Linked DNA regions of Homo sapiens: all the other regions are linked to region 1. Evidence: fine-mapped expression QTL. A gene starts in region 1. Each other region holds a variant in brackets. All regions are shown on one strand. Distances are between the middles of the regions.

What was found. PIP is the estimated chance that this variant, and not a neighbour inherited with it, causes the effect.
Region 2: its variant is fine-mapped to the expression of TDP2 in whole blood (TOPMed, PIP above 0.99).
Region 3: its variant is fine-mapped to the expression of TDP2 in whole blood (TOPMed, PIP 0.98).
Region 4: its variant is fine-mapped to the expression of TDP2 in skin (TwinsUK, PIP 0.95).
Region 5: its variant is fine-mapped to the expression of TDP2 in atrial appendage (GTEx, PIP above 0.99).

Annotation. Positions count from the first base shown.
Region 1 is chr6:24,664,400-24,669,504 of GRCh38, reverse strand. TDP2 (tyrosyl-DNA phosphodiesterase 2) reads left to right here and starts at 2,606. Exons shown (of 7, transcript NM_016614.3): 1 at 2,606-2,807; 2 at 2,894-2,979. The coding sequence starts at 2,643. ACOT13 (acyl-CoA thioesterase 13) reads right to left here and starts at 2,428. Exons shown (of 3, transcript NM_018473.4): 1 at 2,161-2,428. The coding sequence starts at 2,241. It overlaps LOC124901279 (a long non-coding RNA gene), which reads left to right. Exons shown (of 2, transcript XR_007059509.1): 2 at 1-388. RefSeq lists enhancers at 2,390-2,684, 2,216-2,887, 2,888-3,560.
Region 2 is chr6:24,692,163-24,697,267 of GRCh38, reverse strand. The region is part of intron 1 of ACOT13 (acyl-CoA thioesterase 13); the gene reads right to left. It overlaps LOC124901278 (a long non-coding RNA gene), which reads left to right and starts at 1,497. Exons shown (of 2, transcript XR_007059508.1): 1 at 1,497-1,924; 2 at 2,523-5,105. The variant A/G (reference allele first, on the strand shown) is at 2,852.
Region 3 is chr6:24,756,961-24,762,065 of GRCh38, reverse strand. No RefSeq gene overlaps it. Among named protein-coding and RNA genes, the nearest start is that of GMNN, 15 kb to the left of the region's middle. RefSeq lists a silencer at 4,031-4,232. The variant A/G (reference allele first, on the strand shown) is at 2,013.
Region 4 is chr6:24,713,014-24,718,118 of GRCh38, reverse strand. C6orf62 (chromosome 6 open reading frame 62) reads left to right here. Exons shown (of 5, transcript NM_030939.5): 2 at 1,795-1,971; 3 at 3,679-3,801. Among named protein-coding and RNA genes, the nearest start is that of C6orf62, 3.6 kb to the left of the region's middle. The variant G/TG (reference allele first, on the strand shown) is at 2,271.
Region 5 is chr6:24,581,996-24,587,100 of GRCh38, reverse strand. KIAA0319 reads left to right here. Exons shown (of 21, transcript NM_014809.4): 5 at 3,399-3,497; 6 at 4,755-4,852. Among named protein-coding and RNA genes, the nearest start is that of KIAA0319, 62 kb to the left of the region's middle. The variant T/C (reference allele first, on the strand shown) is at 2,963.

The DNA of each region.
Region 1 (5,105 bases):
CTAAGTTAAAAGGAAAATTCAAGCTAGGAACTACTTAAGACAAACTTGCCTCCCATTCTATTCAAAGTCATCCCTCTGCTCATTGAGATAAATGTGTATCTGACTGCCTCCTTAGGAAAGGTAAATCAGAAACTCAAAAGAATGCAACCATTTGTCTCCCACCTACCCGTGACCTGGAAGCCCCCTTCCCGCTTCAAGTTGTCCCGCCTTTCCGAACCCAACCAGTGTTCATTTTACATATATTGATTGATGTCTTATATGTCCCTAAAACGCATAAAACCAAGCTGTGCTCTGACCACCTTGGGCACATGTTGTCAGGACCTCCTGAGGCTGTGTCACTGCGTGCGCATCCTCAACCTTGGCAAAATAAACTTTCTAAATTAACTGATACCTGTCTCAAATTTTTGGGGTTCACAAGGTTTAGTTATAAATGCTTCTTATGGAGCATGATTTTCTTACAAGCGAGGCAGGAGAATCGGATCTGGAGGCAGGGAACCTAGGGCTGTTTCACGCTGACTTCCTAGAACTAAATTGAAAGTAAAACCCTAACTTCCCACACCAAGTAACAAAAGAACCAGAGGCTTCTCCCTTTCCAAACCCCCACCTTTTCTGTGTGGCAGATGGGAAATTGAAAGTACCTCTGATTGGTTGCAAAAAGCAAAATTACGCTAAGAAGTAAGTTATCCCTTAAAAAAAATTATTCTTTCTGCAACCAATCAGATCTTCCCATAGGAGTGTAACTATGTAACTTCACCATCTGATTGCACGCCACGTCTTCGTTTGCATATAAGGGCAACTTTGTAACTTCACTTTAGCCTTTCATTGGTTGCTTTTCACAGCCAATTGTGGGTCACCACTTCATTTACATGAGATGAGTACCAAGTGGCCAATAGGAGACTTCAATGGGGTATTAGGGCCCCTGAGCTGCTGCTCCACACCCCAAACACAGGAGTGTCCTTTCATTTTCAGTAAATCCCTGCTTTTGGCGGGGCATGGTGGCTCATGCCTGTAATCCCAGCACTTCGGGAGGCCAAGGCAGGTGGATCACCTGAGGTCAGCAGTTTGAGACCAGCCTGACCAACATGATGAAACCCTGTCTCTAATAAAAATAAAGAATTAGCCAGGCTTGGTGGCGCATGCCTGTAATCATCCCAGCTACTTGGAAGGCTGAGGCATGAGAATCACTTGAACCCAGGAGGCGGAGGTTGCAGTGAGCCGAGATCGTGTCACTGCACTCCCGCATGGGCAACAGAGCAAGACTCCATCTCAAAACAACAACAACAACAAACACCTTCAAGGTCTGGCGTGGCGGCTCACACCAGTAATCCCAGCACTTTGGGAGGCGGAGGCAGGCGTTTCACCTGAGGTCGGGAGTTCGAGAGCAGCCTGACCAACATGGAGAAACCCTGTCTCTACTAAAAGTACAATATTAGCTGGGCATGGTGGCGCATGCCTGTAATCCCAGCCACTCGGGAGGCTGAGTGAGGCAGGAGAATTGTTTGAACCAGGGAGGTGGAGGTTGCAGTGAGCCGAGATCGCGCCATTGCACTCCAGCCTAGGCAACAAGGGCGAAACCTCATCCTAAAAAAACAAAAACAAACAAACACCTTCGGGCTTTGTGAGTGCTGGTCTCAGAAAAGCACTCAGTCTTCCTCCAAGGGCTAACTTACTTCTTCAGGAGTTGGGTGCCTTTGAGAAATTTCCCAAACCACTACAGAGGAACAACTTCTCCCTTCGTTCACCACTCTACCAAGCACTTGGCTTTTGTACCTTATTGCAATTATTTATCTTCTAATCTTCTAGAGCCTAGAGAATTAGACTGTAATGTGCCTTAAATGCAGAGGTTTCTCTTACTCTTCTCTGGAGCAATGCAGACGTTTGTTGGTTGAAGGATCAAACTCCAAAGTCCCTCCCAGCCTTGGAACTGTCTCCACGAGTCATAACCATACTTATCTATGTTTAGATAGAGAACTTACGCGTTCGACCCAGCATATTTAGGGGCTCCATTAAAGTAATAATCATTATTACTAAGGTGAATTTACAGGCGTACTAGAACACAACCTAACAAGAGATAATTATTCAAAGCTCACAACGGCACCAAGCACGGTGCTTTCTTTTCCTTCATTAGAAGCCACGGCTTCTCCCCTACCTTTCCCATACCTTTCCCAAAACTCTCTCAAAATTGCGAGCCTTGGTCATGGCCTTTATCACCTCCCGCAGAGACTGAGTCATGCTGGTCATCGTGGACGGTTTTCCAGCCTTTGGGCTTTGCGCAAGAACGAACTTCGGAAGAGCTGGAAAGTCCAGAAGTTAGTGAAAGAAGGAGGACACAAAGGGCGAAGAGCCCGCACCCTTCTCCGCCCCTAGGAGCGCAAGAGGCCGGGAGTCAGGCGAGCTGGCAGCCCCGGTGGTCCGCGATTTGCTCACTGACTTTCCTCGCACCCTTGTGACGAAGCGCGCATGCGCGCTTCGCACCCACCGCCCCGGCGGCTCCCTTGCGGCGCAGCTGCACCAGTTTTCCGAGAGCAGCGCATTTCCCCGCCGGGCGGTTGATGCGGGAGCGCCATGACACAGGCGCCTGCGCAGAGCCGCGCGTTGGCCTCCTGTTCCGCTTAAAGGGGCGGTGCAGAGGCGGCAGGAAGATGGAGTTGGGGAGTTGCCTGGAGGGCGGGAGGGAGGCGGCGGAGGAAGAGGGCGAGCCTGAGGTGAAAAAGCGGCGACTTCTGTGTGTGGAGTTTGCCTCGGTCGCAAGCTGCGATGCCGCAGTGGCTCAGTGCTTCCTGGCCGAGAACGACTGGGAGATGGAAGTACGCTTTCGCTGTCCTCGCTTCCGGCTCCATTACCTAGGTCGGTGGAGCGCACAAACCTCATCCCTTGTGCCTTTGTTTTTCAGAGGGCTCTGAACTCCTACTTCGAGCCTCCGGTGGAGGAGAGCGCCTTGGAACGCCGACCTGAAACCATCTCTGAGCCCAAGACCTAGTAAGTGATGAGGGGAGCGGGAGCCAGTCCGCACGGAGGCAGTTTGATACCAGGTAGCCCTGCGCGTCCTGGGACCTGCCGTGGAGCTGGGCGGACGATGCTGAGGCAGATCTCCAAGCTGCGTAGCCAGAGGAGCAGGGCTTGCGTTGCTGCTGCTGCGCGGAGTTGCGCCCCAGCAGCGGATCTAACACTGCACCAGACTGTCGCTTCGAACGTGATTTGGGGTCCAGGGAGGAAAAGATGGAAATGTAATGTTTAACTCAAATGAAAGGAAATAAGTAAGCGAGAGGTTTGAAACAAATGAACGAAGGCTAAACCTTCTATCGAAAAATGGCAACTTGGAAGTCTCCTTGCTTCCTGTATTGTTTATTTATTCTAGGCCCTAGGCTGACCGGCCAGAATAACAGGTTTGTTGTTGTTGTTATTTTTTTTTAATGCACACCTACTCCTGTTATTTCAGTGCCCCTCTCCAGTTCCTGCACTTAAAAAGTGTAGCTGCCTTACAAGGCCCTCTACTATTTGGCTCCATAACTTAGAACCTGCCTTTCCAGGTTCCAGGCCTATCAAACTTTTACTTTTTTCCAACGGGTCATTTTCTCCTGTCTTTGAAACTTCGTAAAGATCTTTATTACCTGTGCCTGGAATTTTTTTCTTTTCCCTTCCTTGCTAATATTTGTCTTAAAGCCCCAAGCTGAGACATGATTTATCTCTAGGAAGCTTTTCCTGATGTCCTAAGTCTGGGTAAGAGTCCCCTTTTAGGTACTCTTATAGCATCCTGCATGACCCCTGTTACAATACCTTAGTCCGTATTATAATTGCTGTTCATTATTTTATGTCTCCTACTAGACTGCACATCTAGTAAGGAGTATCTGTTTTGTACATTGTTAATTTCCCAAAGTCTGACACAACATTTGACACATAATAAGCTCCCAATAAATATTTACTGAATGTATAAAATTCTCCCAGCTATATGTACAACCTGTAAAATTGACTGTTCATAGTGGAGACTTTATTTTCCCTTTGGTCTTTTCAGCTACACTGGCTTACAGATGTGATAAGATATTTTCTTTAGGTTCCTTTCTCTGTCTTGCCTCTTGTTGGGGAATTGTTTACTCACCCACAGTGATTTGTCTCTGGCTCCCGTTTTACTAACCAGAGCAAGTTGGACTAGGAGGTGTTTGCCTAGCTCAAACTGGCCAGTCAGATCCTCTCCTTGGTTTCAGAATTAGGACCAAGAGAGTCAAGTCTGAGTCTTCCTATGGAGCTGGAACTGTAACATGTTAACTTAGCACCTGTGAGGATTCATACATATCTTTTTTTGTGTACAGAGAAGCTGAGAACAGAGGTCTGCAGAGAGACAATGAAGCAGAGGGAAGTTGAAGTGTAGGATTGAGAGAAAGCCCTTAACTGCCCTTCCTTAAACATGGCTGTATTTCTGTACCAGGCTCTGTGACATGTTTGTTTCCTTATAAATTCTCCTGTTTTGGTCAAACCAACCTGAGTTAATGTCTGTTGGTTGCAACAGACTATATTGTAACCAATAAATAGTAACAAAATAAGTGGATTTCCTGTAATAGGCCCTCAGAAAAGATGCGGATCAAGCTGATCAATGGTGTCATGGCTATTAGGATTCTCTTACCCCGGAATGGTAAATTGGCAAAAACAAGCAAAGGTGTTGATTAGGCTGTGGTCTCTTGTCTCTCAGAACTCAGGTCAAGTATGAATGAGAGTGAGGTTTTAAAGTTTAGTTTGCTCAAGAGAGAAAAATGGGGAAGGGGCAAACTTCAGCGTGTTTCTAAGGCCTGTGACCTGATTAGATTTTTGATGTTGGCTTTAGCAAAAATGAAAGGGAAAAAAAAATTGATTGGAAGATTTTATGACCAGAAAAACTCAACCCTGCTGAGCAAGGGCATTGGCTGTCTTAAATGAATGGCGCAGGAATCTCAATTCTGGAGTGAATTCCTGGGATATCAACAAAAATTGAAATTGAACACTAAAGTGATTTAGTCCCCTACATTAGAATCTATCTTCAGTGTCTCTGATGAGAGACAAGGGAAATCCTCTTAAAACAGCTATGCTGAATCTTAGCTGCATATTGGAATTATCTGGGGAATTTAAAAAAAAAA
Region 2 (5,105 bases), 28 kb before region 1:
ATTGAGTTACTAGCATTTAAAAAAAACTTTTATACTATAAACCCATGTTAGTATAAAGTGTAAATGTAACAATAAAATCCAGCAAAGTAAGTTACTGCTTTTAAGGTTTTGGCCCATTTATAGTAAGTATAAGGAAAAAGTATTACATGAAAGATAAACATATGCAACAATGCATTTAAAATTTTATGATTTTTGGCTGGGCACGGTGGCTCACGCCTGTAATCCCAGCATTTTGGGAGGCTGAGGCAGGTGGATCACGAGATCAGGAGTTTGAGACCAGCCTTACCAACATGGTGAAACCCAGTCTCTACTAAAAATACAAAAATTAGCCGGGTGTGGTGGCGTGCCCTTGTAATCTCAGCTACTCAGGAGGCTGAGGCAGGAGAATCGCTTGAACCCGGGAGGTGGAGGTTGCAGTGAGCTGAGATCATGCCATTACACTCCAGCCTGGATGACAGAGGGAGACTCAGTCTCAAAAAAAAAAAGAATTTATGATTTTTATATCAAACATCTTTAAAAAGGCAACTTATGGAAAGGTAAGTTTTCTTATATATTTGTGTTTAAATTACTAGGAAAAACCATCAGGGTATAATATCATGGTATAAGTTAGAGCTGAGCTGTGAGTGGAATGTGCTGCATCCAAAACAGTAATTTCCACCCTCACTAGAGGTGTTCAGGAAGAATATGGATGAGTATTTGGTGTGTCTGTTGTGTTTGGGAGTAGGGGGATGTCTCAAGCATTAAATGGTTGGTTATATTCTAGATAAGTACCATTTATTAGGCACTTTGATATGCTAGGCACTGTGCCAAGCACTTTACATATACTATATAGTAAGGAAGAGACAACATCCATTTTGCAGAGAACTTAAATTCAGAGTGATTTATTTTCAAGATCACCCAAGATGTGATGGAAACTGAGATGTAGATGTAGGTCTTTCCACCTTCACATCTCCCAATCACTAACTATATATGAGTAACCTCTAGGTATGACTCCCACCAGGAAGACATTTGAGAGTTTCACAAACCACCTATTTAGTGGTTTTATTGTTGAAGGCCCTGAAGGAAAACAGAACCACGCGATATAAAACATCCTAAACAATATTATGTCATGTTTTGCAAAACAGGTAAATCAATGTCAAAAATAAATTTTAGAACAGGATTTTTGTTGTTGGGTTTTTTGTTTTTTGTTTTTTTGTTTGTTTTTTGTTTTGAGATGAAGTCCTTTTCTGTTGCTGAGGCTGGAGTGCAGTGGCTTGATCTCGGCTCACTGCAACCTCTGCCCTCCAGGTTCAAGCAATCCTCCCGCCTCAGCCTCCCAAGTAGCTGGGATTACAGGCACATGCCACCACACCCAGCTAATTTTTGTATTTTTAGGAGAGATGAGGTTTCACCATGCTGGTCTCGAACTCCTGACCTCAGGTGATCCACCCACCTTGGCCTCCCAAAGTGCTGGGATTAGAGTCGTGAGCCACCGCGCCTGGCCTATGATCGTCTGTTTATAGCAATAAATGATCTAGCCACAAGATGTCCTCATAAACTAAATAATACACACCGAGCAGGAATAAGGTGTAAACTTAACCTCATTCACACATTTATGTGATTCTTTATAGCAGGCATTGGCAATGTAAAAAATGAATGAAGTTTAATCCCTGCTCTTAGCGGGTTCAGTGTCTAAAGGAAGAGACAAGTACAAAAACTGCAGAGGAAGAAACTGTTGTAGACAGAATAAATACAGGTTTCTTGGAGTAAAGATATCTAACTTTTAAAAATGTATATTTCCAGGGAAAAGACATTAGGAAAGGCTTCCTGGAGAACGACATCTGAGTCTTGAAGAACAGGCAGGAGTTATCCAGGTGAAGATAAGGGAAAAAGCCAGGCAGTTGAAGAAATAGAACTAAATACGAGCGGCTTGTAGACAGCAAAGGTAGTTTTAATGTGTTGTTTTTGTTTTTGTTTTTTGAGACAGAGTCTCGCTCTGTCACCCAGGCTGGAGTGCAGTGGTGTAATCTCGGCTCACTGCGACCTCTGCATCCCAGGTTCAAGTGATTCTCCTGCCTCAGCCTCCTGAGTAGATGGGACTACAGGTGCGTGCCACCATGCCTGGCTAATTTTTGTATTTTTAGTAGAGATGGGGTTTTGCCATGTTAGCCAGGTTGGTCTTGAACTCTTGACCTCAGGTGATCCACCCACCTCGGCCTCCCAAAATGCTGGGATTACAGGCATGAGCCACCGCGCCTCAGTTTAAGTGTATTTTAAGGCACAGTTTGTTCAGTAAAGCTTAGTTCTTAAAGTTCCATTTGATTACCTAACTTTGGCTGGGATGACAAAATGTAAGACAAATGTCAGTTAGATTTTTCTAGTACAGAATACTGGTTTTGATTTTTCCCCCCAACTTGAAAGGCCAAAGGACATACTAATAAAATTGTTTTAAAATTTACATTGGAATAGAGAGAATTTTTTACTGGGCAGCCTGATATGGCAATATAAATGCCTTTATATGTTCTCAATTCTTGTCTCCTCAGGTCAAATAAGAGAATTAAACCAACGGAAGATGATGAAGGAATGTCCTGCCCACCCTCCCAGAGCTAATAAGTAGTCTTGCTGGGGAAGAGGCCAATGCAAAGCTAACTTCTTTCTGATGAGGAAGGGGAGTAGGGAGAGAACCTTGTGAAAAAAACATCTCAGCCTTGGTAAAGATGGGCTGTAGGGCACACACTTGTTTATTCAGTTATATCAACATAGCTAACTCCATGTTAGAGACCATGCTGAGCAATTTGACATGTGCTGTCTCAGTGCTGCCAATGTTTGAAGTGAATACTATTGTCTCCATTTTACAGATGAGAAACTGTCG[A/G]AAAGTTTAACTAGGATGTCTCAGGTTTAACCATTATGCAAAACAGCCTACCCTCAAATATCACCTGGACTGCTACAGACAACTGGGTTCTGATTCCTTAGGTGTCTTGGTGAAGATGGTATGGAGGCTTTTATGATGTCAAGGGGTCAAAAATTTACCTGCCATGGCCTAACAATACAGAGAACTGTCCAGATGTGTTCAGTCCCAGGATCCTGCAGGTTGGACAATTGCAGTAGGTTGGCAAGAACTTTTATGGCTCAGCACTATTTGCCACAATGGGCTCCTCAGTATATCATAACAATTCTTACATGTACACACACATATACAATAATCTGTCCCTTTTATATATGGCCTTATATCGTGCTGTCTCTTCCTTGCACTTCATGCATTCATATGAGTTTATGCAACTTCGTCTGTGTAATCCCAGCACTTTGGGAGGCCGAGGCAGGCAGATCACTTGAGGTCAGTAGTTCAAGACCAGCCTGGCCAACATGGTGAAACCCTGTATCTACTAAAAATACAAAAATCAGCCAAGCATGATGGGGCACACGTATAATCCCAACTACTTGGGAGGCTGAGGCAGGAGAATCCCTTGAGCCTGGGAGGTGGAAGTGGAGGTTAGCCGAGTTCGCACCACTGCACTCCAGCCTAGGCGACAGAGTGAGACTCCGTCTCAAAAAAAAAAAAAAAGACTCAGGTTGCCATAGCCCCTCACCCTCCCTCTCCCATCTGAGATACAATTCATCACAAAGAGACACTCCACATGACACAGAGTCTCTCCTTTCCTCACTTTTTCAGCAAAGATAGATAGGGAGAAGGGCTGCCTAATAACAGCAGTGAAGATGCTGTTATTCATCACTGAGATGGTCCTTTATGAAGCTGAGAACCAAGAATTCTCTTTAAGCCTTGGCATCTCAGATCATTCTGGTCTTTTTTTAAAAGGGTTGCATTCTGCTGAGCAGTGGGATAAACAAGCCACTGCCATCACTGTAACTGCTGCTGGCTGCTATGCAGCTCACCACCACTGCCTCCACTGCCTCTGCTAAACAGATAAAGGAATGTATGTCTCTGGCTCAGTAAGGGTGTCTGTAATGGGCCTCAAGCACAGGAGTGTGACATATGGTATGAGAAAATCTGTGTACATAAACACGTGAGCCACCCCCAAAAGAAGACTGTCTACAGAAGCACAAAGAAAAACAGACAATCTTAATGGATGACAATTTTGTATGTGTATATTTGTGAATAAGGCTGTTTTCAAGCAATTTTCCCTGACCATGGATGTTGCTAACTTTGTGTGTGACACTGCAGATGACAGGAGGTGTGTCTAAGGACAGTGTATGAATGCACCTTCATATAAGCAGGAAAGGAGGTAAAAAGACAGGATGTGGCAGTGTGATGGGGTAGCAACAGCAACAAACACAGATGACATTTATGTTCAAGGGGCTCTAGAAAGGTAGATGCTATAAAAGTACCATGGTTCAACCATATTGCTGTTATCAGTCCAGCATTTCTGCTTTATAATGTATGTTTCAGTAGCTTCATTACACAGGTGGCTTCCGCTTAATGGTTGAGAGTACTGGCTCTGGAAGCAGACTTAGGCAAGACCCTGAACTGAGGTTTCCCCATTGATAGAGATAATGTACTGTACTGCCCTTATAGGGTTTTGTAAAAATTAAGATTAAAATTCAAATTAGGACAAGGCCTGGTATATCACAGGTGATCAAAACATTTTAATTTTGGGAGACTGAGGTGGGAGGATTGCTTGAGCCCAGGAGTTTGAGACCAGCCTGGGCAACACAGCAAGACCCCAACTCTAGAAAAATTTTTTAAAATTAGCCAGGCATGGTGGCATGTGCCTGCAGTCCCAGCTCCGAGGGAAGCTGGGGTGGGGAGGATCGCTTGAGCCCAAGAGGTCAAGGTTACAGTAAGCTGTGATCGTGCCACTGCACTACAGCTTGGCTGACAGAGTGAGACCCTGTCCCCAAAACAACACCACTTTAATTTGCATCCTTATTATAAAAACTATTATCAAACAGAAACTTTGGTTTGTATAGTTTGGCATGAATTTTCTTAAAATTATTTCTATTGCCGAGGTCAACTATGACCTAACTACAAAACTCAAAGGACCCTTGGCAGCCTCTCTTTCCCTTAAGTGACCTCTCAGCATTTGGTGACGTCGTGAACTTTTCCTAGCCTTCCCTTAACTCCCATGACACCACCTCCTCCTGGTTTTCCTCCTACTCTCCCAGCCACT
Region 3 (5,105 bases), 93 kb before region 1:
TCACATGGTGAGAGAGGAAGTGAGAAAGAGAAAGGTAGGGGAGAGGAGAAGGTGCTGGGCTCTTTTTCACAGCCAGCTCTTGATGGAACTATAGAGTGAGAACTCACTCACCCACCACCCACCCAATTAATCTATTCATGAGAGATCTGTTCTAATGATCCAAGCATCTCCCAGTAGGCCCCACCTCCAACACTGGGGACCAAATTTCAACATGAGATTTGAAGGGATCAAACATCCAAACAATGACACACATATATGAAGACAGTAACCACTGCAATTGTGCAGAATTGACCAGCAAAAGACCGTTTTCAGGCAGTAGTGATGGCAGTGGCTGCTGTCACTGGCTGCAGCAGGGAGGCGAGGCGGGGCTGCAGACACCATGCAACTGGTGGGAGCCCCACCCTCCTGGGCGGGGCTACAGCTGCCCAACTGTGGCTGTGGATGGAAGCCTCCCTGTTCTCTTGGAGGAGGCCAGGAAGAGGCAGGATCTGCCCACTTGGGTGCAGCTGCAACCACCCAACCTGTGGCTGCAGACCTAGGCCTTCCACTTCACGGAGCAAGCAGGAGCCGGGGAAAAGCAGGAACTCCGACCCTTCCGAGTTGGTGGGGCAGGAGCTTTGCCGGTGCAGCTGTGGCTGCCCTCCCAGGCTCAGGACCTGGGCATCTCTGCAGCCTGCACCCTCGGGAGCCTGGGATGTTCCCTCCCCCGAACCACGCTCCCCTTGGGGGCATGGGATACCCCCCTTGGCCCCGCCCCATCCCTGCAGGCTCGGGGGTGTCTGCTCTCGCTGCCCGGCCTTTCTGCTCCTGGTGCCAGCTCTGATCTCCTAGCGGGGTTTTGGAGAGCTCCCTTTAGGAGATCTCATGAACATTTGTACTCACTAAAAGAAAGTCTGACGGGAGGGGTCAGCCAATATTCACTGCAACAAGCATCCCCATTGGGTACAGTTCCCTGTGGACCTCTCTGAGTGGGAGGAACTCACTTTGAGCTGGGCTGCCTTGACTCCTGACTGGGGCAGCCAGGTTGGCTTATAGCAAGCAGTGCAAACCACAAGCGTTTCACCTAGAAAGCTTAGTAGTTAGGACTGTAGGCTTGCCACGAACGGAGAGTGCAATGCAGTGCTCTTCAACTTGGTAGAAATGGCTGCTGGGGAGAGAGGGAGAAAGAACCAGGAACTATGGGATTAAGGGCCCAGTGAGTGTTGAAGACCACAACAAAAGAAAAACTTTAGACAAAACAAATGTAACAGTTTACTGGAGCAAAGAACAGTCTACACATTGGGCAGCCCTTAGAACCAGAAGTTCAGAGAATACAGTTCTGCAACCTGGGTATTACTTACAGAAAAAGGCTGAAGAGGTGGGGAGCGATGGTTCACACCTGTAATCCTAGCAATCTGGGAGGCTGAGGTGGGCAGATCACTTTAGGTCAGGAGATGGAGACCAGCCTGGCCAACATGGTGAAACCCCATCTGTACTAAAAATACAAAAATTAGCCAGACGTGGTGGTGCACACCTACAATCCTAGCTACTACTCGGGAGGCTGAGGTGGGAGAATCCTTGAACCCGGGAAGCCGAGGTTGCAGTGAGCCGAGATTGTGCCACTGCACTCCAGCCTGGGCAACAGAGTGAGACTGTCAAATAAATAAATAAATAAATAAATAAATAAATAAATAGCCAAAGATAGCAGAAACAAAGAACAGAGACTGGTTGTTTCACAGTTACTTTCCTTGTAAAGGTTAAAGCAGAGGGGACTTCCTTGTCATGCCAGCTAAAACTGGCCTATCTGGGGATTTGGATTTCCTGATTTCTTGGAAGGTCAAGCAAACAACTTGATTTTGTCTTGGTGGTGTGGAATTATTTTTACTTTTTATTTTTGAGACAGTCTCGCTCTGTCACTCAGGCTGGAGGGCAGTGGCGTGATCTCCACTCACTGCAGCCTTGGCTTCCAGAACTCAAGGGATCCTCCCATCTCAGCCTCCCGAGTAGCTGGGACAGCAGGTGTGCACCATCAC[A/G]GCTGGGTAATTTTTTCATTTTTTGTAGAGACGGAGTCTCCCTATATAGCCCCCACTGGTCTCAAACTCCTGGGCTCAAGTGATCCTCCCACCTTTGCCTCCCAAAGTGCTGGGATTACAGGCCTGAGCTACAGCGCCTGGCCAAGGTGGCCTGGAATTTTAGCATAAGTGACTCCATTTTGGTTTGATCTACTGAGGCCTGGTGAAGGAGCCCAGTCTAAATCAATGGGCTCCTATAAATTTAATTTAACAACCACAAGTTTCTTTAACTATAGCTTAGGGTAATTTTTTTCTACTATGACTTCAGTGGGGAGGGAAGGCAAATTGTTACTGCTCTCTAAATCAGGAGGTAGCAAACTTCTTTTTGTAAAAATTCAGATTGTAAATATTTTAGACTTTCTGAATCGCATACTCTTTGTTCATTCATTTGTTACAAGCCTTAAAATTACATAAAAAGCATTCCTAGCTCCCAGGCAGTACAAAAACAGGCCTTGGCTGGATTTGGCCTGAAGACTGTATTTTGCTAAACTTTACTCTAGATAATACATCCATTAGAGATAGTAAAGTCTCTTTTCTTTTTTTTTTCTTTTTCCTTTTTTTTTGAGATGGAGTCTCACTCACTTGTACTATGGCTGGATCTCGGCTCACTGCAACCTCCACCTCCAGGGTTCAAACAATTCTCCTACCTCAGCCTCCTAAGCAGCTGGGATTATAGGCACGCCCATGACACCGGGCTAATTTTTGTATTTTTAGTAGAGACAGGGTTTTGCCATGTTGGCCAGGCTGGTCTCAAATTTGTGACCTCAAGTGATCTGCCACCTCAGCCTCCCAAGGTACTGGGATTGTAGGTGTGAGCCACTGCATCTGGCCAAGTAAAGTTACTTTCTACCATTCCAAGAAAGGCTATTTTCTTGAGAAAGACTGGATAAATAATTTAGAAATTGGTTTGTGAATCATTTTCCTCCTACCTGAATGAAGAGGGAGTTCTAGTGGCAAGCAAGGTGTAGCTACATAGACTTATGAAAATAACTAAGACAGGTACCTTCAGATGAAGGGAAAATTAGGGGAAATTACATGATTTCTTATTTGTGTTATATATTTGCTCAATGCATTTTCTTTTGGGAATTTATGAGTTAGGTATGAAGTACACCTTTGGCAAACAGATTTTAAAAATTCAATGAAAAGAAGCAAAATCTACCCCATGACTTAAGACTCCAAAAGTGTTTAAGAAAATTAGAAAAGCAAGCTCTAGTTTAAATTTTGAAAAATCTCAATGTGAGTACAAAGTTTTCTTAGGAGTTCAGAAATGTAAAAGGTTTATACAAAAGATGAAAGAAAGAGTATATTTCCCAAAACCTACATGAACAGTGTTTGAAAAGCTAAAACCAAGAACAAACTGAAACTTAAATCTTCCTCCTTAAAAGGAAGTGTTTTTTAGAAGTAATGGTAGGATTGAGTGCAGTTAATTATTAGGATTAGGTTAGCACTGGCCGCATAATTTTTGGAACCCAGTGCAAAATAAAAATTTGGGTCCCCTTGTTAAGCAAAAAATATTGATAACTTCAAGATGGCAACAGCAGAGCATTGTATGGGGACTTCTGAGCGATAGCTCAGTTCACATGCTCATGAAGGAGGTGTAAACCAAAAATAAATTCCAAGGCCCCCCAACCATCTGAATGGCCTCCTAAGCCAGGGCACTCTAAAATTCAACCTGAAGGACTGGTTCAGGCCATGACAGAAAGTGAGGGTTAGACATGCCTCATTACACCTCTCTGCCATTAATATCAACACAGACCTTAAGTCTGATAAGAAACAGTTAGAATCTATTCTCTCTGAAGCCTGCTACCTGGAGGCTTCATCTGCCTGATAAAACTTTTGGTTTCCACCACTGCTTTTGAGATGTACCATCTTTCTGGACAGAACCAATGTATAGCTTTAATGTATTTGATTGATGTCTCACACCTCCCTGAAATGTATAAAACCAAGCTGTGCCCCGACCACCTTGGGCACATGTTCTCAGGGCCTCCTGAGGAAGGACTGTGTCACAGGACATGGTCACTCATATTTGGCTCAGAATAAATCTCTTCAAATATTTTACGGAGTTTGACTCTTTTCGTCGACAGACGCCCTCGGCTGGGGACTCAAGAATGCCCAAATCCTGCCTCGGCCCAGCCATCTCCACTTCCTTTGAGGTTCTAGAAGGAGGTTTGCAAGATATAACAGCATGTAAGACACCATAGCAGGTTCCCCTTTATTTTCAAGTAGGTTCCTGTAACTGCCTCTTTAGGGATCCTGGTTAAGCTATGCTGCAGCACAAAATTTAGGCTCAGGACATAAGTAGAGTCTTTCTGCCCAGCAGAATTGAGGATTCCTGAAGGTTTAGAGAAATAGAGGAGAGAAAAAAGAGCAAATGTCTCTGCCTAGAAGGCACCTGCTGTCCCAGGAGAAGTAAAAGGGAAAAGTGCACTTTAGTGACCTCTCACTGTAGCAGAAGTGTGCCATTCACTGTTTTAGAACCTAATCAGATTAGCGGCGCCTCTTCTAGGACAGGAGCAAAGATGGAGATTGGAAAAGAAAGACTTTCTCTTGTTTCTTCTTCAACCTACTGTGAGGGAAAGGGCTTTTAAAACTACATTTGAATTACATTTGAATTTTAAAAAATAAACAGGATGAGCAGTATTCTCTGCTGTTTTGATGCAGTTAGCATAAATGCTAAGAGATAACAATGAGCAAGGAAAATAACCATTTATTTTCCTTCATCTTTTTTATAAAGCAATATTTAGTAATCTGCAGTTTTAGCAAAGAAAAAAATTGAAACTCAATAAACGAGTATATAAGAATAGGCCAGGTGTGATGGCTCACACCTGTAATCCCAGCACTTTGGGAGGCCAAGGCAGGCGGATCACTTGAGGTCGGGAGTTCAAGACCAGCCTGGCCAACATGGAGAAACTCCGTCTCTACTAAAAATACAAAAATTAGCTGGGCATGGTGGCAGGCGCTTGTAATCCAAGTTACTCAGGAGGCTGAGGCAGGAGAATCGCTTAAACCCAGGAGGTGGAAGTTGCAGTGAGCTGATATGGAGCCAGTGCACTC
Region 4 (5,105 bases), 49 kb before region 1:
TGTAGGTAACCTTTTCTCTTACATTTAATGAAGTAGAATACACCTTTTAGGAGCAATTAAATACTGAAATGGTTAATTTGTGTTTAGAAGTGTGATTTTCTTTTTTACTTAGAGTTCATTTTGCCTTGTATAGAAGTACAGTTTTTAAAAACTCAAAATGACCTAGAGGAAGTTTCATTTTTAGGGGCGGTGGAGGTCTTAATCAGAATTAGTTCCGCAGTTAAATAGCAAACAGTAAGTTGTGAGTAGTCAAGGATGGGATGATAAGAGCAGTATTTTTTGCAACTTAAAATGAACATTTTCTTAAATTATCAGCAAGGCTTATTTGACCAAAGATGAGGTTATGAATGTAAGGAAGTGCTACTTGGATTTTGGTGCTTAAATTGTTAGCTAATTTCAGATCAGAAATACAATCTTAGTGTGGTATCTATTAAGTATCTGGAAGTTTTCCAGGTTTCCCCCTACTGTTTAACTCTTATTATTTTTGTTGCTGAGACAGGCCTCACTGTATTGCCCAGGCTAGTCTTGAACTCCTGGGCTAAAGTGATCCTCCTGTCATGGCATTTTAAAGTGCTGGGATTACAGGCAGGAGCTGCCACGCACAGCCCCAACTCTTAACTCCTAAAAGGTTATTTGTATTTAAGAACATTCTTAGCTGCTGAAGTATAGCATTGTGAAGTGATTTTTAAGTAATTTTTGAAGTGACTGTCCCAAGATTGGGTGGTATCAAGGACTTACATCTCCACTTTTGTTTTGTTGACAAGCTGACTCAAAATTGATGAGATTGGATTTTAGTTGAAGATGATACAGTGTATGCTCTTTAAATAAATCCAAGATAATAAGTAGTGAGACCATATCTTTGTATTTAATCTATATATTGCCCCAAATTGCACCATCTTAATTCTTTAACACCAACGATAATCTGGTTTTATTCTGTGAATGGACAGTGTCCATGCAGTTGCCCTGAATAATTCATGATATATACTTAATAGTACAGAATTTTAAAAAGTAGTTTAGTGATGCGTACTTGGTCTTGAGTAGTATTAAAAGAGAACTTGGTGTGCTTCTTTTTAGTCTTTCAAATATTGATGGTTTTGGCTGGGTGCAGTGGCTCACGGCTGTAATCCCAGCACTTTGGGAGGCTGAGGCAGGCGGATCACTTGAGGTCAGGAGTTCAAGGCCAGCCTGGCCAAATGGTGAAACCCTGTCTCTACTGAAAATACAAAAATTAGCCAGGTGTGGTGGCGCAGGCCTGTAATCCCAGCTACTCGAGAGGCTGAGGCAGGAGATCCCCTCGAACCCAGGAGGCAGAGGTTGCAAGTGAGCCAAGATGGTGCCACTGCCCTCTAGCCTGGGCAACACAGTGAGACTCCATCTCAAAAAAAAAAAAGAAAAACCAGAAATATTGATGGTTTTGATAATGTAATATTGAGAAAGTAATGGAAATTGGCCCATATAAGGAATAAAACTATTCATTTGTCTGAATAGCGTTGTTTTAAAACTGGTGAGATTTTTAATTTTAAGAAGTATTGTCCAAAATAGTGCTATGGATACCATTATGCTATAAAACTCAAGCATTAAACATTCTAATGACAGTTTGTACATGTATGGTTGGAGGGGGAGGTAGGGGAAGAACAGAAGGAATTACCTATCTGAAAATGTGTTTTCAGTGTATAAGTTACTGCAGACAGTTAAGAATTTTGTGGAGTTAATGTTACATGACATTGTAATATGAACTGAGTGTTAAAAGGCTGTGCTCCCTGTGGGTTAATACACCATTTTCTTTTCTTCTAGAAGAAAAAGTCAGCACTTTTTGAAGTGTCTGAGGTTATACCAGTCATGACAAATAATTATGAAGAAAATATCCTGAAAGGTGTGCGAGATTCCAGCTATTCCTTGGAAAGTTCCCTAGAGCTTTTACAGAAGGATGTGGTACAGCTCCATGCTCCTCGATATCAGTCTATGAGAAGGGTAAGTTCTGCCTTAAGTCTTGACTTGATAAAGTTTCTGTGGATTAACCTTGCATTTCCCCGCCCCCCGAACCCCCCTTAAAGTGGATAGTTATGATAGTGACCAGTCTCTTCAGGTAAATTTGTCTTTGTGCCATGTTGATAACTGGGATCATGACTTTAAAGCATTGTGTTTATAGGATTAGAAAAACACGTTTTTTTACGCCAGACCATTCTTATGTGGATGAAGTATATAAAGGGATTTCTTTAATCTGTGTTAGGTGTTGATGATCTCGGACTTTTTTTTTTTTTTTTTTTTTT[G/TG]AGACAAAGTCTTGCTCTTTCGCTGAGGCTAGAGTGCAGTGGCATGATCTTGGCTCACTGCAACCTCTGCCCTCGCGCATTCAAATGATTCTCCTGCCTTAGCCTCCCGAGTAGCTGGGACTACAGTTGTGCGCCACCATGCCTGGCTAATTTTTTGTGTTTTTAGTAGAGATGGGGTTTTGCCATGTTGGCTAGGCTGGTCTGGAACTCCTGACCTCAAGTGATCCTCCTGCCTTGGCCTCCCAAAGTGCTGAGATTACAGGTGTGAGCCACTGCACCCTGCCAGTAGCCAACTGTTTTTAATAATTTAAGTGTTATGCAGAAAGTTTAAAAATTTTTGAAGTAGGTTTGTTTTTGAAAACTTGACCTTGAGTAAAACATGGACAACTTTGTTGTATTAGGCTCATAATATTGTGTATTATTATTGTGGATAAATGTCTTATGTCTCCGTTTATTGTATTTCCTTTTTTGGGGGGAATATGAATATAAGGAAGTGCTTCCAGCTTTGTAAACTTCTGCAACATGTTAAAAGTTAATCTGGGCATACCTGAACCAAGAGATCCCCACAGTTACTTGGGGAGAATGCTGGAGATAACCAGATACTGGTCTGGAAGAAATTATGGACCTTCAAAAATTAATATGCTGGCTACAATAATGAAGCAGAAGTCAGGAATGGAGAAAAGTAGTTTTCTATCAAAATAAAAATAGCATTTCAGCTATAATAGGATAGTGATTCATATTAGGAGTTCTAAGACATCTTTTTAAATAGATTGATTTTTAAAGGTGGAAATAAAGGTTCAGGGTCTGACAATACAACAGATATCAGAGATTTTGTTGGAGTTTTCACCATGCACTGATAAGTCTAGGTCTTGGTGTTAGGAGCATTGGACTGAGTGTATGTGACTCTCTGTAAGATAAAAATTAAAATTAGAGCCAGGCACAGTGACTTAGCCTGTAATCCCAGCACTTCGGGAGGCTGAGGTGGGTGGATCACCTGAGGTCAGGAGTTCGAGACCAGCCTGGCTGACGTGGTGAAACCCCGTCTCTATTAAAAATACAAAAAATATTAGCGGGGCATGGTGGCACACACTTGTAATCCCAGCCATTCGGGAGGCTAAGTCACGAGAATCGCTTGAACCTGGTAGGCGGAATTTGCAGTAAGCGGAGATTGCACCATTGCACTCCAGTGTGGGCCACAGAGAGGGACTCTGTCTCCAAAAATAAAAAATTACATCATGAGCTATTCAGATTATAAACTATTATGTTTACTTCCTAAGATATAAAATGATATATGGTAGATCTTTTGTACTTATAAAATGTTTTTATAGGGGAACCCTATAATTTGTGACATGGCTTGATGTAGCTGTTTCTTTAAAAGTAAACTTTTTTTTTTTTAATCATTTTATAGGATGTAATTGGCTGTACTCAGGAGATGGATTTCATTCTTTGGCCTCGGAATGATATTGAAAAAATCGTCTGTCTCCTGTTTTCTAGGTGGAAAGAATCTGATGAGCCTTTTAGGCCTGTTCAGGTATTTTGGTCTAAAGTGTGATGAGTATTTCAATATGTGAAAACTACTAGAATATAATAGGGTCTAACTTGAGAAATTCTTTGGGAAAATGGTTTCTGATAGTTTTATTTCACGAGTCTCCCCTATTTAGAATATTGTGATGCAAGAGAAGAAAGCGTTTGGATTATAGAATCTCTTGACAGTGTGGTGGTTCCACCTGCCCAGTGTGGCTTTGAAATTATGACTAGAGAAAATCTTTTAAAGTGGACATTTACTGATTTATAGAGGGGCCCACAGATGAGCTTCTGAGATCTGTAACTCTTGAAGCCTTCACCACACATCCTTCTAAAACCGTATATTTAACTGCTGCTTCCCAAAGGAATGTGATCTGAAATGGGTGAAGAAATCATTTTGTAGAAGTTGATCTGTATATAAAATTATAGAAGAAAGAAGTAAATTTAGTAGTCATTCTTAACCTTAAAATCTTGCTGACTTTTGACTGTTTGTCATGGTATACTAGACATTGCTCAAGTGAATCCCCCCTCTAGTGTTAAGGGCATTTACTCATGTTGAACCTAGTTTTATTTACAGTATATTTGTATGCATAGAAGATGGAGGTCCACCAAAGTGTTAATTATGCTTAGTTGTAGGTCAGGTATAGCTAACTTTCCTTTTTTAATATATATATTTACATTTGTGTTTCCTTTATAATTTATGGCATAGATTGCCACGATTTTCTTAAGTATACTTTTATAATCAGAAAAATGATATTAAGGACTCATTTTAAGTACACTAAATCAAATATTAGAAGGCTTCTTTATTTTAAGCTAATTGTGAGGATTATTTGTCATTTAAAACTTTTGCTTCTACTTATTACCCTGAAGTATCTTTGTGGTGCTTATGTTTTTCACAGACTGTATAAATTGATATACTCTCCCGCCCCATGGTAATGTTGCTACACATAAGCTCTAATAATTATCATTTTTAATGTTTTAAGATTAATTCAACTAAGTTTTAAAAATAATCCATTGGTTACATACATAAGAAAGTACTGTATACAGATTCCCCTGACTTATAATGGTTCGACTTAAGATTTTTTCAACTTTACCATGATGTGAAAGCCATATGAATTCATTGTGCTCCTCGATTTATGATGGGACTACATCCAGGTGAAGTCATTGTAAATTGGAATTGTTGTAAGTTCAAAAGTCACTTTTTGATTTAAAATACGTGTAACTTACACTGGGTTTATCAGGATGTAACATCACAAGTCGTGGAGCATCTGTATTTCGGTCATTTAATGGATGATATCTGACTGAAGGGAG
Region 5 (5,105 bases), 82 kb after region 1:
GACATATGAAAATACAGAACTAAAATTAGATGAGCAGTTGGGCTGAAGATAAAGGATTACGAGTCATCGGTGTGGAGGTGATAGTTGCAGACACGGGGGACATAGGAGATCATCCAGGGAGAGAGGGGGGTTAGCTGAGGAGAGGCCTGAGGACTGGAACTTTGGGGACATTGTTCTATAAGGAGCTGGAAGTGCAGAAGGAGCCTGCAAAACTGATTGGGTAGTTGTGCCAGAGAGGTAGGAGATAAAGAGGAAAGCTAGAGGGAGAGAGTTCTATGGAGGAGGATAGAATAAGTTTCCATCTACCCTTCTAAGTTCTAGGCTAGTGCCCCTGTAACAAAAGATAGATTAACAAGAGAGAAAAAAAAAACAAGTTTATAACATGTACATCTTACCTATACGTGGGAGATGCCCAGGGAAATGAGGAAATCTCAGAGAGGTTTATTATATAAGCTTATATTATATAAGCCTGGAACTCTGGCTTATATAGCATCTTGAACTAAAACAAGGAAAGAGGATTGTGGGGAAGGCAAGTGGCCAAAGGTGCCCAGAATAAACGAAGTAAGCAAGAGTGAGGTTCATTATGCAGATTTGTCAGGACCTTCTCTATGGATGTGGATCTCTTGGAATGTAGTCACCCTTCTCTTCCTGGTATAGAAGGAGAGAGACCCTTACAAATGGAGATTTCCTTTATAGATATAAATTCCCCTTACAAAGGAGTAACTTCTACTCTGTTTTCAGAGCTCCTCTTGGTCTGCTGTTTCTTCAAAACAAACAAACAAACAAACAAAAAACACAGCTCAAAATAATCCTTGTATAAAAGAGTTATAGTTGCAATGGCATATTCTAGTTTCCTACAGTCTGTGAACCAAAAGTATCTGAGACAGGTCTCAATCAATTTAGAAAGTTTATTTTGCCAAGGTTAAGGACTCACCAGTGACACAGCCTCAGGAGGTCCTGATGACATGTATCCAAGGTGGTCAGGGTACAGCTTGTTTTTTTTTGTTTGTTTTGAGACGGAGTCTTGCTTCGTGGCCAGGCTGGAGTGCAGTGGCGTGACCTTGGCTCACTGCAACCTCTGCCTCCGAGGTTCAAGAGATTCTCCTGCCTCAGCTTCCTGAGTAACTGGGATTACAGGCACCCATGACCATTCCCGGCTAATTTTTGTATTTTTAGTAGAGACAGGGTTTCTCCGTGTTGGCCAGCCTGGTCTTGAACTTCTGACTTCAAGTGATCCACCTGCCTCAGCCTCCCAAAGTACTGGGATTACAGGTGTGAGCCACTGTGCCTGGCCACCTTGGTTTTATACATTTTAGGGAGACATAAGACATCAATCAGTATGTGTGAGATGTACATTGGTTTGGTCCAGAAAGGCATGACAACTGGAAGGGGGTCTTTCAGGTCATAGGTATATAAGAGACAAATATTGCATTCTTTTGAGTCTTTGATCAGTCTTTCACTGAATACACAATTTACTTGCCAGAGGGGGTAGAGGAATAGTCACTTATGCCTTGTCTGGCTCAGTGAATCTGTATTTTTTCATAAACAATAGGGCAGAGGAAACAATTAGATATGCATTTGTCTCAGGTGAGCAGAGGGATGGCTGAGCTCTTTCCCCCACCCCCTGCACCTGTGAAGATAAGCTATTGATTTACATTGCCAGGGTGAAATTCAACAAAACTGTTTTAGGGCAAAGATCTTGAGGCCCACAAGGAGTTTCTTGTGGGCAAATTATAAGGAAGGCATGTAGCTTTTTTTTTTTTTAATCTTTGTAGGTATCTCGTTTAGGAATAAAATGAGATGCGGGTTTGCCTGACACAGTTCCCAGCTTGACTTTTCCCTTTGGCTTAGTGATTTGGGGGTCCCGAGATTTATTTCCCTTTCACAAATCATATTTTGGGGTGGCATGTTCTGGTCTCCTGTAGTTCCAAAAGGGAAGACGTATCAAAGCTCCATGTGTCGCAGAGGCTGTGGTGAGGATTGCAAAGCTTCCATTAGATTTTCCAATAAGGAAGTTATTAGAATATGCTAGACGTAAGGGTCATGTTTCCTGAGCTTTTCTGTGGGCCATGTATTTTGGAGATTACTCTCTCTAACTTTTGTATTTACTTTGAGCCTGAGCTTCCATAGAGAGAAAGATAATAGTGGGAGAGAAGCTGTGTAGTATACGGAAAAAGAAACTGGCCTGGGAGTTTGGCCCAGGATCTTTGGGTTTTAATAGAACCTACTGCATACAGTTGTAATGAGGATTAAATGAATTGATCATTTTAAAGCCCTTGGGGCAATGCCTGGCACAGTTTAATCCGGTATATAAGTGTTTGTTGAAATGAATACATTTAAATTAAATATTGGTGGACCTATTGCTAATTACCATACAGCCTTGGACAACTTTGCTTTTCTAGGATTTAATTTCCCCACCTATAACATGATAGGTTTGGATCAATGTCCCTTCTAGGTCTACAGTTGCTGACTTTCAGGATAAAGAGTTAGTGAAAATGACAAGAGAGGAGCCAGCAAAGCCACTGAGAGCCTCTGCAGCTGATCTAGGAGGCACTCGAGGGACTGAGGACTGAGAGGAGGGGAGTGGATTAAATGAACAACCTGTCTGACATCTCCTTGCAGCTGATCCCTCTGGAGCACTCAGCTTTTTTTTTTTTTTTTTTTTTTTTAAATCTTTGCTTTTCTCTGTGTAGTATCTGGACATATCGCAATATATTTTACAAGTGAAACTAATGTCCAATGGAGCCAAACCGATAGAATTTATGAATATATCAATGTAATCTGGTTACAGAGAAAGTAAACAAGTATTGTTCTGAATGCTTACTTGGTGGCTAAGCACTTTTGATAAGAGTTAATGTTCCTGCTGCTTAAGTTAAAATAGGTTTTTTATATTGAGGGTGACTGGATTTTGTCTTGGAAAGGTTCCAAGTACAAGGCCATTAGCAGTAATTCATGAGGCTAC[T/C]ATCAGAACTGAGTGGAGTGTGACTAATGAGACAGAAACACTTAGGATTACACTCAATCTTTTTATAACTAAAAATAGCTCACACCAGGGCGTCAAGAAAAGCTGATAGCAAGGGAGAAAATGGACCCAATTCACAGTTGCATGAAACCTGTTTCACGCAACTCTTGTCACTCAATACGTTGCTCAGTCAATTTGAATCATTATTTTTGTCACAGTGCCAACTCATATTTGTGGTTTAAAACCCTGTACTATAATATAGTGTACAGTTCAATTTCTAGCCAGAGGAAAAACGTGCCTTAGCTAAAATCTTATGAAGAACTATTACAAAAGCATATGTTATTTTAATTTATGGATACCAAAAACAGATCTAGTGTAGAGCAGTAATGTAACACATTATATTATATAATTGCACGTATTATTTCTAATTAACTTTTAGTGAAAGAACTTACGGTATCGGCTGGAGATAACCTAATTATAACTTTACCCGACAATGAAGTTGAACTGAAGGCCTTTGTTGCGCCAGCGCCACCTGTAGGTGAGAGTTTAACCTTCCTCCCTGACCACTAGGAACTGGGGTGTTTTTCTTCAGCAGGTCCTTACAGGCTATTTACAACGCCGATTCTTTTTCACAGTATTGCACGACGTCACAAACAAAGGTGGAGGACAAGGCTTTGATTATTCTTAAGCATCAACATTTGTTGAAATAGTTTCAAATGGAGTAAGAATCTAGGAAATTAAATACAGTATATATCGTTTAATTGGTCAGGATGGAAAGTCATAAATTTCTGATGATGCAAAGCAGATCAGGAGAGGCTGCCACGTACCAGTTCTTGAACTGTAATAACCCATAGAACCTGGGAAGATTCCACCGGGATGAGAGGGAAGTGGCGTGCACCCATAGGTTTGTTTGCAGATACTGTGGCATTGACAATCACGGCTCTCAGGTTCTCAGGATGCCTCACACTAGCTGCTCAAAAAAATTTATTCAAAATGCTCTTTCTTCTACTTGTCCAGTGCTCTACCATTCAGTAAGCATTTGACCTGGGACCTGTGGCCTGTCAAATGCATTGTTTTTAAGGTAAACTCATTCTTAAGGTGTTTGACTATTTCTCATTCAGGTTAGTTCCTTAATTCATTTTTTTCTCCACCACATATTGGTCAAAATTTTATACACAGAGATGATAATATTTGGCATTTGCATTTTAATCCTTTGAGGTGAGGTACCTTATATTTTAACTACTAATATCTGCAGCTGGGAGACAGTTTCATCTTAACATAGACATGTTTATACTGTTTTTGTGTCCTTAAATAAACCCCTACAACAGATCAAATGAATTGAAATCTCCTTGCCTTTTGTTAAAAAGAGAAAAGCACAATGTATTATACTATGTTAAAACTGATATGGATAGTCAGATGTAGCCCCCTAGGAAAAAACTCATCACATACTAATGGTTAAGTTAGGGAGGTTTTTTTTTTTTTAACTTTATACATTTTAAAAATTTCCTGTAAGACGTATGTTTTTATAACAAAAAAAGAAATGTTACATTAAGAAGATACATGTTATCTTGGCTGATAGTTGAAAGTCAAGTTCATAAGATGATAACAAGAGTGAGGGGATAAAAACAAATAAACAAAAAATATATATATAAGTTAAAAAAAAAAAAGAAAGCTGAGTTGAGTATATCTAAGGTAATCTGCACTGGTGGTTTAAAGGCTGTCATCTTCCCTCTGCCCAGGTTATCTAGTGTCCTCTCAGAATTTATAACTACTCATATTTATTTTTTGCTCTCAGAAACAACCTACAACTATGAATGGAATTTAATAAGCCACCCCACAGACTACCAAGGTGAAATAAAACAAGGACACAAGCAAACTCTTAACCTCTCTCAAGTAAGTAACTGGAGACTGGTTGTGTCTAACAGCACAGCGTAACGGCATAGAGCTCAGTTAATACCTTCTTAGCTACTGAACCCAAACGTCTTTCTTCTTTTTGGGGACAGAGTCTTGCTCTGTTGCCCAGGCTGGAGTGCAGTAGCGCAATTACAGCTCACTGCAACCTCTGCCTCCCGGGTTCAAGTGATTCTCCTGCCTCAGCCTCCTGAGTAGCTGGGATTACAGGTGCACGTCACCACACCCGGCTAAT